Homo sapiens: one gene and its partner. The protein of the gene in region 2 interacts with the protein of the main gene of each other region in a pairwise test. Each region holds a gene or a part of one and is shown on either strand. Other genes may lie near its edges.

The links. Proteins that work in one complex are often made in the same cells at the same time.
Region 1: the proteins of COPZ2 (region 2) and COPG1 interact in a two-hybrid assay, tested with the Homo sapiens proteins (2 studies listed by BioGRID).

What each region holds. Positions count from the first base shown.
Region 1 is NC_000003.12:129,259,604-129,263,350, reverse strand, and holds part of COPG1 (coatomer subunit gamma-1), read right to left. Parts: intron 3,019-3,747; coding exon 2,951-3,018; intron 2,733-2,950; coding exon 2,544-2,732; intron 1-2,543. UniProt on the Homo sapiens protein: The coatomer is a cytosolic protein complex that binds to dilysine motifs and reversibly associates with Golgi non-clathrin-coated vesicles, which further mediate biosynthetic protein transport from the ER, via the Golgi up to the trans Golgi network.
Region 2 is NC_000017.11:48,036,332-48,040,078, reverse strand, and holds the start of COPZ2 (coatomer subunit zeta-2), read left to right. Parts: upstream 1-2,281; 5' UTR 2,282-2,301; coding exon 2,302-2,412; intron 2,413-2,831; exon of another isoform or gene 2,832-2,918; intron 2,919-3,153; coding exon 3,154-3,228; intron 3,229-3,747. UniProt on the Homo sapiens protein: The coatomer is a cytosolic protein complex that binds to dilysine motifs and reversibly associates with Golgi non-clathrin-coated vesicles, which further mediate biosynthetic protein transport from the ER, via the Golgi up to the trans Golgi network.

The sequences.
Region 1 (3,747 bases), on a different chromosome or scaffold from region 2:
CTTCAAACTCCACATGTCTGCAACCACAAACATCTCCATCTCCTTCCCCCTCCCTCATCCAATACCCCATCTTTTCCTCCCCTGCAAACTAGTCAAGAGCACCACTGTCAGCTCAAAGTAGAAAATGGCATCATCTCTGTTGACATCCACCCCTCAACCCTCACACCAACCCTGCCAACAGGCATTATCCCTCAAAAAGCTCTTGCACTGTCCCACCTCTCCTACTCCCGCCGGTTCAGGCACCATCCTCTCCTTCTGAATTACTCCAACAGTCTCTTTACCCAGTCACCCCTCCACTCTGCTCCAGAAGGACTCTTTTTTTTTTTTTTTTTTTTTGAGACGGAGTCTCGCTCTGTCTGGAGTGCAGTGGCACGATCTCGGCTTACTGCAACCTCCACCTCCAGGCCAGGTCAAGCGACTCTCCTACCTCAGCCTCCGGAGTGGCTGGGACTACAGGTGTGAGCCACTACACCAGCTAATTTTTTAATTTTTTTAGTAGAGACAGGGTTTCACCATGTTGGCCAGGCTGATCTCAAACTGCTGATCTCAAGTGATCTGCCGACCTCAGCCTCCCAAGTGCTGTGATTACAGGCATAAGCCACCGCGCCCAGCCAATTTTTTTTTTTTTCAGACAAGGTCTCACTCTGTCACCCAGGCTGGAGTGCAGTGGCATGATCATGGCTCACTGCAGCCTCGAACTCCTGGGTTCAAGTGATCCTCACACCTCAGCCTCCAGAGTAGCTGGGACTACAGGTGCGCATCACCACACATGGCTAATTTTTAAAAAAATTTTCTGTAGGCCGAGTGCGGTGGCTCACGTCTGTAATCCCAGCACTTTGGGAGGCCAAGGCGGGTTGATCATGAGGTCAGGAGATCGAGACCATCCTGGCTAACATGGTGAAACACCGTCTCTACTAAAAAATACAAAAAATTAGCTGGGCATGGTGGCGGGTGCCTCTAGTCTCAGCTACTCAGGAGGCTGAGGCAGAAGAATGGCGTGAACCCAGGAGGCGGAGCTTGCAGTGAGCTGAGGTCACACCACTGCACTCCAGCCTGAGCAACAGAGCGAGACTCCAACTCAAAAAAAAAAAAAAAAATTTGTAGAGATGAGGTCTTGCTACATTGCCCAGACTGGTCTCAAAATTCAGGCCTCAAGTGATCCTCCCTCCTTGGCCTCCCAAAGCACTGAGACTACAAGCATGAGCCACCGTGCCCAGACCCAGAAGGATCTAATATGCAAATCTCACTGTGTCATTTCAGCCTGCAAAGCATTCTTGTAACCCACAGGCAGAGTAGACTGCTGCCTACTTTGCATAATCCACACTATAGAATTTACCACAATATATTATTCATATTATTGTTTGCTCTGATTAAAACTCTCCGGTGACATACTTCATTGTTCTATCAATTAACAATTGTGAAATAACAGAATTACAGAAATTGAGAACAAATTAATGGCTGCCAGGGGTTAGGGAATAGAGAGGTAGGAATGGGCCTGACTATGAAGAGGTAACAAGAGTCTTGTGGAGATGGATAGTTGAGTGTCTTCACTGTGGTGGCAATTTTGAAAGTCTCCACATGACATCTTGCATAGAACTTCACATATATACACACAGGAGTTGCCTGTGTAGCTGGTGAAATCTGAATGAGCTCTATGGGTCATGCCAGTGTCACTTTCCTGGTTGACATTGTCCTGTGCTAGTGTAGGATGCTGGCACTGTAGGAGAGGGTTGATGGAGGGGTGCATAGGACTTCTCAGTATATTTCTTTGTAACTTCCTATGAATTATTTCAAAATATAAGCTCAAAAAATATTCACATCCTTCCTCCTGCCCCAAAAGAACACCTTTCCAATGTCTTCCTTGCAATTAAAACTCTTTACCTGACCATGGGCCTTACATGATTGAGCCCTGTCTATTCTGACTTTGTCACCTGCACTGGCCCCACAGCTCTTCCACCCACTGGCCTTCTCTCTCCTTGACTTGCTCCTGCCTTTCCTCCTGGTTCTTTGCACTGATTCAGGTTTGAGCTCAAATGTCACCCTCCAGAAGGGCCTTCCCAGACTGTGCTCTTCCTAGGATCATCCCTGCTGTATTTCTACACTCTTGACTGCAGTACCCATGCCTGAGATGATCTCGTCTACTCCTTTCTTTACCTGTTTACTGTTCCTCTCCCATCCCTAGAAAGGAAGCTCCAGGAGGGCAGTCACCTGCTTTGTTCACTGCTATGTTCCCCTTTTGTCACTCTACATAGCAGACAGCAAGTGCTCAAGAAATACTTGGACAACAAATCAATGAACCCTTAACTGGCCTGGAAACTACTGTTCTTTCAGTACAAGGGGACGATATGGATGGAGGCCTGGAGGCAGGACTACGCACATTTCTCGGAAGGCCAAGTCTCTGCAGAGCAAACTGCTGGCCTCCTCTGAGTCCTCAAGGCTGACCAGCCCCTCAGGTCAGTCCTGGCAGGAAGGCTGTGGCCACAGAGAGCAGGGACAGAGCTCCTTCCTCTGGGGGCCGTGGGTGTCCTGGGGGTAGCAGGTACCTTGAATTCATCCGAGATTTCTGACATGAAGGAGGAGATCTGCTTCATGAGGCGGTCGATGCTGCTCTCGCTGCCCGTCTTAAGGAGGGTGGTGATGGCCAGCGTGGCAATGCTGCGGTTTGAATCTGTGACCAGGTTCTCCAGATCCAGATTACAAGCTGTCACAGCTGACGGATGCTTCATGGCAACCTGTTTTGGGAGGACAGTGACAGAGAGGGCAGGAACCCAATGCTGTCACTACATTTGATGGTTTGGCCCAGTCAGAAGTCCTTTGGATGAGATCATCTCACCATCTAGAAGAAACTAACTGTGACCAGGGCTATTATCCTTCCCAGCCAGGTCAGAGGCTAGGACACACCTCCAGTTGGATCAGACAGCTTCCTCCAACCCCCAAGCTGGACTCTTACCTTATTGAGGGTACGAACAGCAGCATAGCGGAGAGCAGCCTTGGGTGAGCTGCAGAAAAGCTGGAGCACTGTGGGGAGATGGATGCCACATGTCAGGTTGCCTTCACTGCTGGGCAGCTGGGAAAACCGGGGGCTACTGTTCTGACTCAAACCCTCTGCTCAGCTCATTTCCCTGCTGACACCCCCATCCCAACCCAAGACACAGAGCTCCCCTCACCCTGCGCACCTGAGCCATGGACAGAGGCCATAATGTCTGTGAGCACCCAGGGGTTCCAGTGAGGGCTGTTATTCACTGGGCATCTGCTGTGTGCCAGGTGCTGTGCTATACAGTGGACATGCCTCACTTCTATAGCTTGCAGCCACCACTAGCCCACTTTACAGATAAGGAGACTGAGGCACAAAGGGGAAAGCAAACAAACTTTAGGTTGGCAGCCAGTAAGTGGCAGAACCAAGATTAAATTCCAAGACTGCCTGCACCTGCAGCCTAAGCCCTTAACCTCTGTGAAGTAATATTCCACTCCTCTCTCCTACTGTGTCTACAGGATCCAACAGAACTTCCCCCTTGGCACCAAGTGCTGAAGAACAAAGTCCTCTCTTAAACAAATGGTTTATTTCCTTTAACTAGATGAGAGCCATTCGGGTACCATATCCCTCCCTTGCCCTGGCTGCCCGGAAGCTCAGAGCTAAATTTGGCACTCAATCATAGGAGCGAAGATGACTACTGTTTTCTGGAATATCTATGTTCCTTTCTTCATAACTTGGCTTTTATTCTCTAATACTCAAAAAAAATTTTTCTT
Region 2 (3,747 bases):
GCGGTCTCGGGTCACTGCAACCTCCACCTCCCAGGTTCAAGTGATTCTCCTGCCTCAGCCTCCCGAGTAGCTGGGATTACAGGCACCTGCCACCACCCCCGGCTAATTTTTTTGTATTTTTAGTAGAGATGGGGTTTCACCATGTTGGCCAGGCTGGTCTCAAACTCCTGACCTCGTGATCCGCCTGTCTCGGCCTTCCAAAGAGCTGGAATTACAGGCGTGAGCCACCGTGCCCGGCCGACACTGGGAATTTGAGGCTGCGGTGAACTATGATCACACCACTGTACTCCAGCCTGGGTGATAGAGCAAGACCCTGTCTCAAAACAAAAAAACAAACAAACAAAAAGTCACATTCATTGGTTCTTGCAGGGCTCAAAGTCTGGGCGGGGAGAAGGAACACTTATAAACAAACTAGTAAAGGCTGGGAATGGTGGTTCACGCCTGTATCCCAACACTTTGGGAGGCTGAGGTGGGAGGATCACTTGAGCCTAGGCGTTCAAGACCAGCCTGGGCAACATAGTGAGACCTTGATCATGATCACCCTCCTCCCCCTCCTCCTCCTCTTCCTTTCTTTTTCTCTTCTTCTTCTTCTTCTTTTTTTTTTTTTTGAAACAGATTCTCACTCCCATTGCCCAGGCTGGAGCACAGTGGCATGATCATGGCTCTGCAGCCTTGAACCCCCAGACTCGGGTGATTCTCCCACCTCAGCCTTCTGAGTAGCTGGGACTACAGGTCACACCACCCTACCTGGCTAATTTCTTTGTAGTTTTAGTAGAGACTAGATCTTACCATGTTGCCCAGGCTGGTCTGGAACTCCTGGGCTCAAGCCTTCTGCCCACCTCAGCCTCCCAAAGTGCTGGGATTACAGATGTGAGCCATTGAGCCCAGACTTGAGACCTTGTTTCTACAAAAATAAAAAAAATAAAAAAATAAAAAATTACCTGGGAGTGGTTGCATGCACCAGTGGTCCCAGCTACTCGGGAGACTGAGATGGGAGGATTGCCTGAGCCCAGGAGGTTGAGGCTGCAGTGAGCCCAGATCGAGTCACTGCACTCCAGCCTGGGCAACAGAGTGAGACCGTGTCTCAAACAAGCAATATTAGTAAAAATAATATTTAGAGATTGAAAAAAGTGCAATGAAAGAAAGAAATAGGAACTGAGAGAATGTGACAGGAGAGACCTATCAAGTCAGATATGGTGGCTGTCAGGAGGACCTTTTGGTAATTATATTTCAGCAGAGGCTTGAAGATAAGAAGACTTGATGCATTCAGTGAGGAAAACCCCATTCTGTAACCATCTAGGGTAAGTGACTGTGGTCCACAACATAAGAGGGCTTGAAGAGAAGAATAGGGAAGAAATTTTGAGTCAAAAATCTGGGTTCTATCCCCAGTCAACTAGCTGTATAGTCTTGAAAAGGTCACACAACCTCTGAGTCTCTCTTTGCTTAAAATGAGGGTCCATTATGCCTATCTTACAGGTGTGGGCTATATTAGATAATGGATGTGAAGGTGTCAAATGTAAAATACACGCACAGTGTTTTTACCGGTAAATGCATACGTAGCACTAACATATCACTGGGATGTGAATTTCCCACTTGCCAGTGTACCCTGAAATGAGAGCTTGTCTTAGTTAGACTTAGACCAAAGAAACCAAAACATGCTGCAAAGCCCGATGTCATTGGTGGAGCATTTGTGCTGCTGGGCGTCTGTCTTGCTTCTGATGGTGCCATATCTGTGACTTAGGAGAGCCTGGGGAGGTGTCTCCGGGCCCATGGTTGCCTTCTGCAAGTAGTGAGAGAGGAATGAGAAAGCCTCTTCACAGAGGGGTGTCCCCAGAACTGTCCTCATTTGCTCTTGCTTATAGACCCTGTCCCTGAGATCTAAAGGGTGACCTGACGTATTTGTCCTCATGGTACCTACCAGAGGTCAACAGACAAAAGTGGGCTTTGCTTGTGTTTGCTGCTGGCCCCAGGACAGCCTATAGACACTGGCGCACACCAAAGCCACAGGCCGGAGAGCAGGCAGGAAGCAGGACGAGGGCTGGTCTTGGGGCACCCTGAGGATGCAGAGTTCGGGGATGTAAGGGACTCGGGAAGGAGCCAAGGAGGAGAGAGGGAGAGGAGAAGTGGGGGAAGGAGAGGTGGGGTGAGGGCGGGAGGGGAGATGGGGGAGAACGAGCAAGAGGACGGGGCCCCGAGGAAAGGGAGGCCACGCGCGAGAGGGGGCCGCGGGGCGGCGCGGAGGCGGGGCGGCGGCGGCGGGCAGGCGGCGGGCGGCGCTGTCAGTGCGAGGCGGCGAGCGGAATGCAGCGGCCCGAGGCCTGGCCACGTCCGCACCCGGGGGAGGGGGCCGCGGCGGCCCAGGCCGGGGGCCCGGCGCCGCCTGCTCGAGCCGGGGAGCCCTCGGGGCTGCGGGTACGGAGCGGGCGGGCGCGGGGATCCCGGGCGGCGGGAGCTGGGCAGGGACAGAGCAGGGTTAGGGGGAGCAGCCAACTCAGAACTCGCGCGCCCGGCGGCTGGGAACTTTGTGTCACCCCTGACTGGCCCCAGGACCCGGGAGGAAAAGTTCGTCCCAGCGCCGACCGGAGAGGAGGCCTGTCCTGAGTCCGTCGGCGCGGGGCTGAAGTTCTGGGTCCGTTTGGAGTGGGGGTGGCGGGTGAGTTGCGATTCCGCGGGGAGGGTAAGGAGTGGCCTGTCCGTCCCAGACTCGGCTCCCATCACCGGTGGGTGATGGGCATGCTTCTGGAGTCTACCCGGGCCAGGGCCTGGGGGCGCGCTGATAGCGCAGGTCCAGCCCGGCCAGGGATCAGCTGGAAGAAGGAGGCTCGGCCCGCTGTCCCCCCCGGCCCAGGTTCTGTGATACACTCCGACTCGGGCTCTGGAGCAGTCAGTGCATGACAGAACTTGGGCCCGGAAGGACCTTCTGCACCCAACGGGCACAGCGCCCACTCGGGGCCTGCAGTGGAACATCTGCCTGGGAGTGGAGTGGGCACCTGGGTTGGCCCATGTGGCACAGGGCTGGGCAGAACCAGCTGTGGACCTTGAGGACTGGGGTTGCTGGGGCCTGAGGATGTATCCTAGGGCCAGCAGATCCCATAGACACAGGGTGTCCACCTCGAGTCAGGGGCCAAACGGAACTCTCCTCTCCGGTGTCAGTTGCAGGAACCTTCCCTCTACACCATCAAGGCTGTTTTCATCCTAGATAATGACGGGCGCCGGCTGCTGGCCAAGGTAACCTCTGACCCCACCCATGAGGGACACAGTTCCCACTCAGCTGACACTCCTGTCTCAGGAGAAACTCCACTGTGATCTCTGTGACTCAGGGCAGCTCAGCTTAGACCCCTCCAGAGGTCCTTCTCATCCTCCTGCCTTGTCAAGGTGCTGCTCCCTGAAATGAGGGGTCTCCTCTATTTCTACTCATGTTCCCTGAAATGTTTCCTTATCATCCTGCTACTGGCCAGTTGGACCTGGGCATGGGAAGGTTCTGCCTAATGGGTCAGTGGAGTGTTGAGCCTGGGACCCAGGAGTCTTAGTCCCCAAACCCCCACACAAGTTCTTTTGTTCTTTGGGGTTTGTCTCTAAACCTCCACTTTTGTTCTACAGCTTGGTAAACACTAACGATTTAGTCTAAGGAGTCTAAGGATTTAGAACCAGATGGGATTTTAGAAACTGTATAATCCAACTCTTTAATTTCGTAGATGAAGAAAATGAGGGGTAGAGAAGCTAAGTGAGTTGCCTGAGGTCACAAGT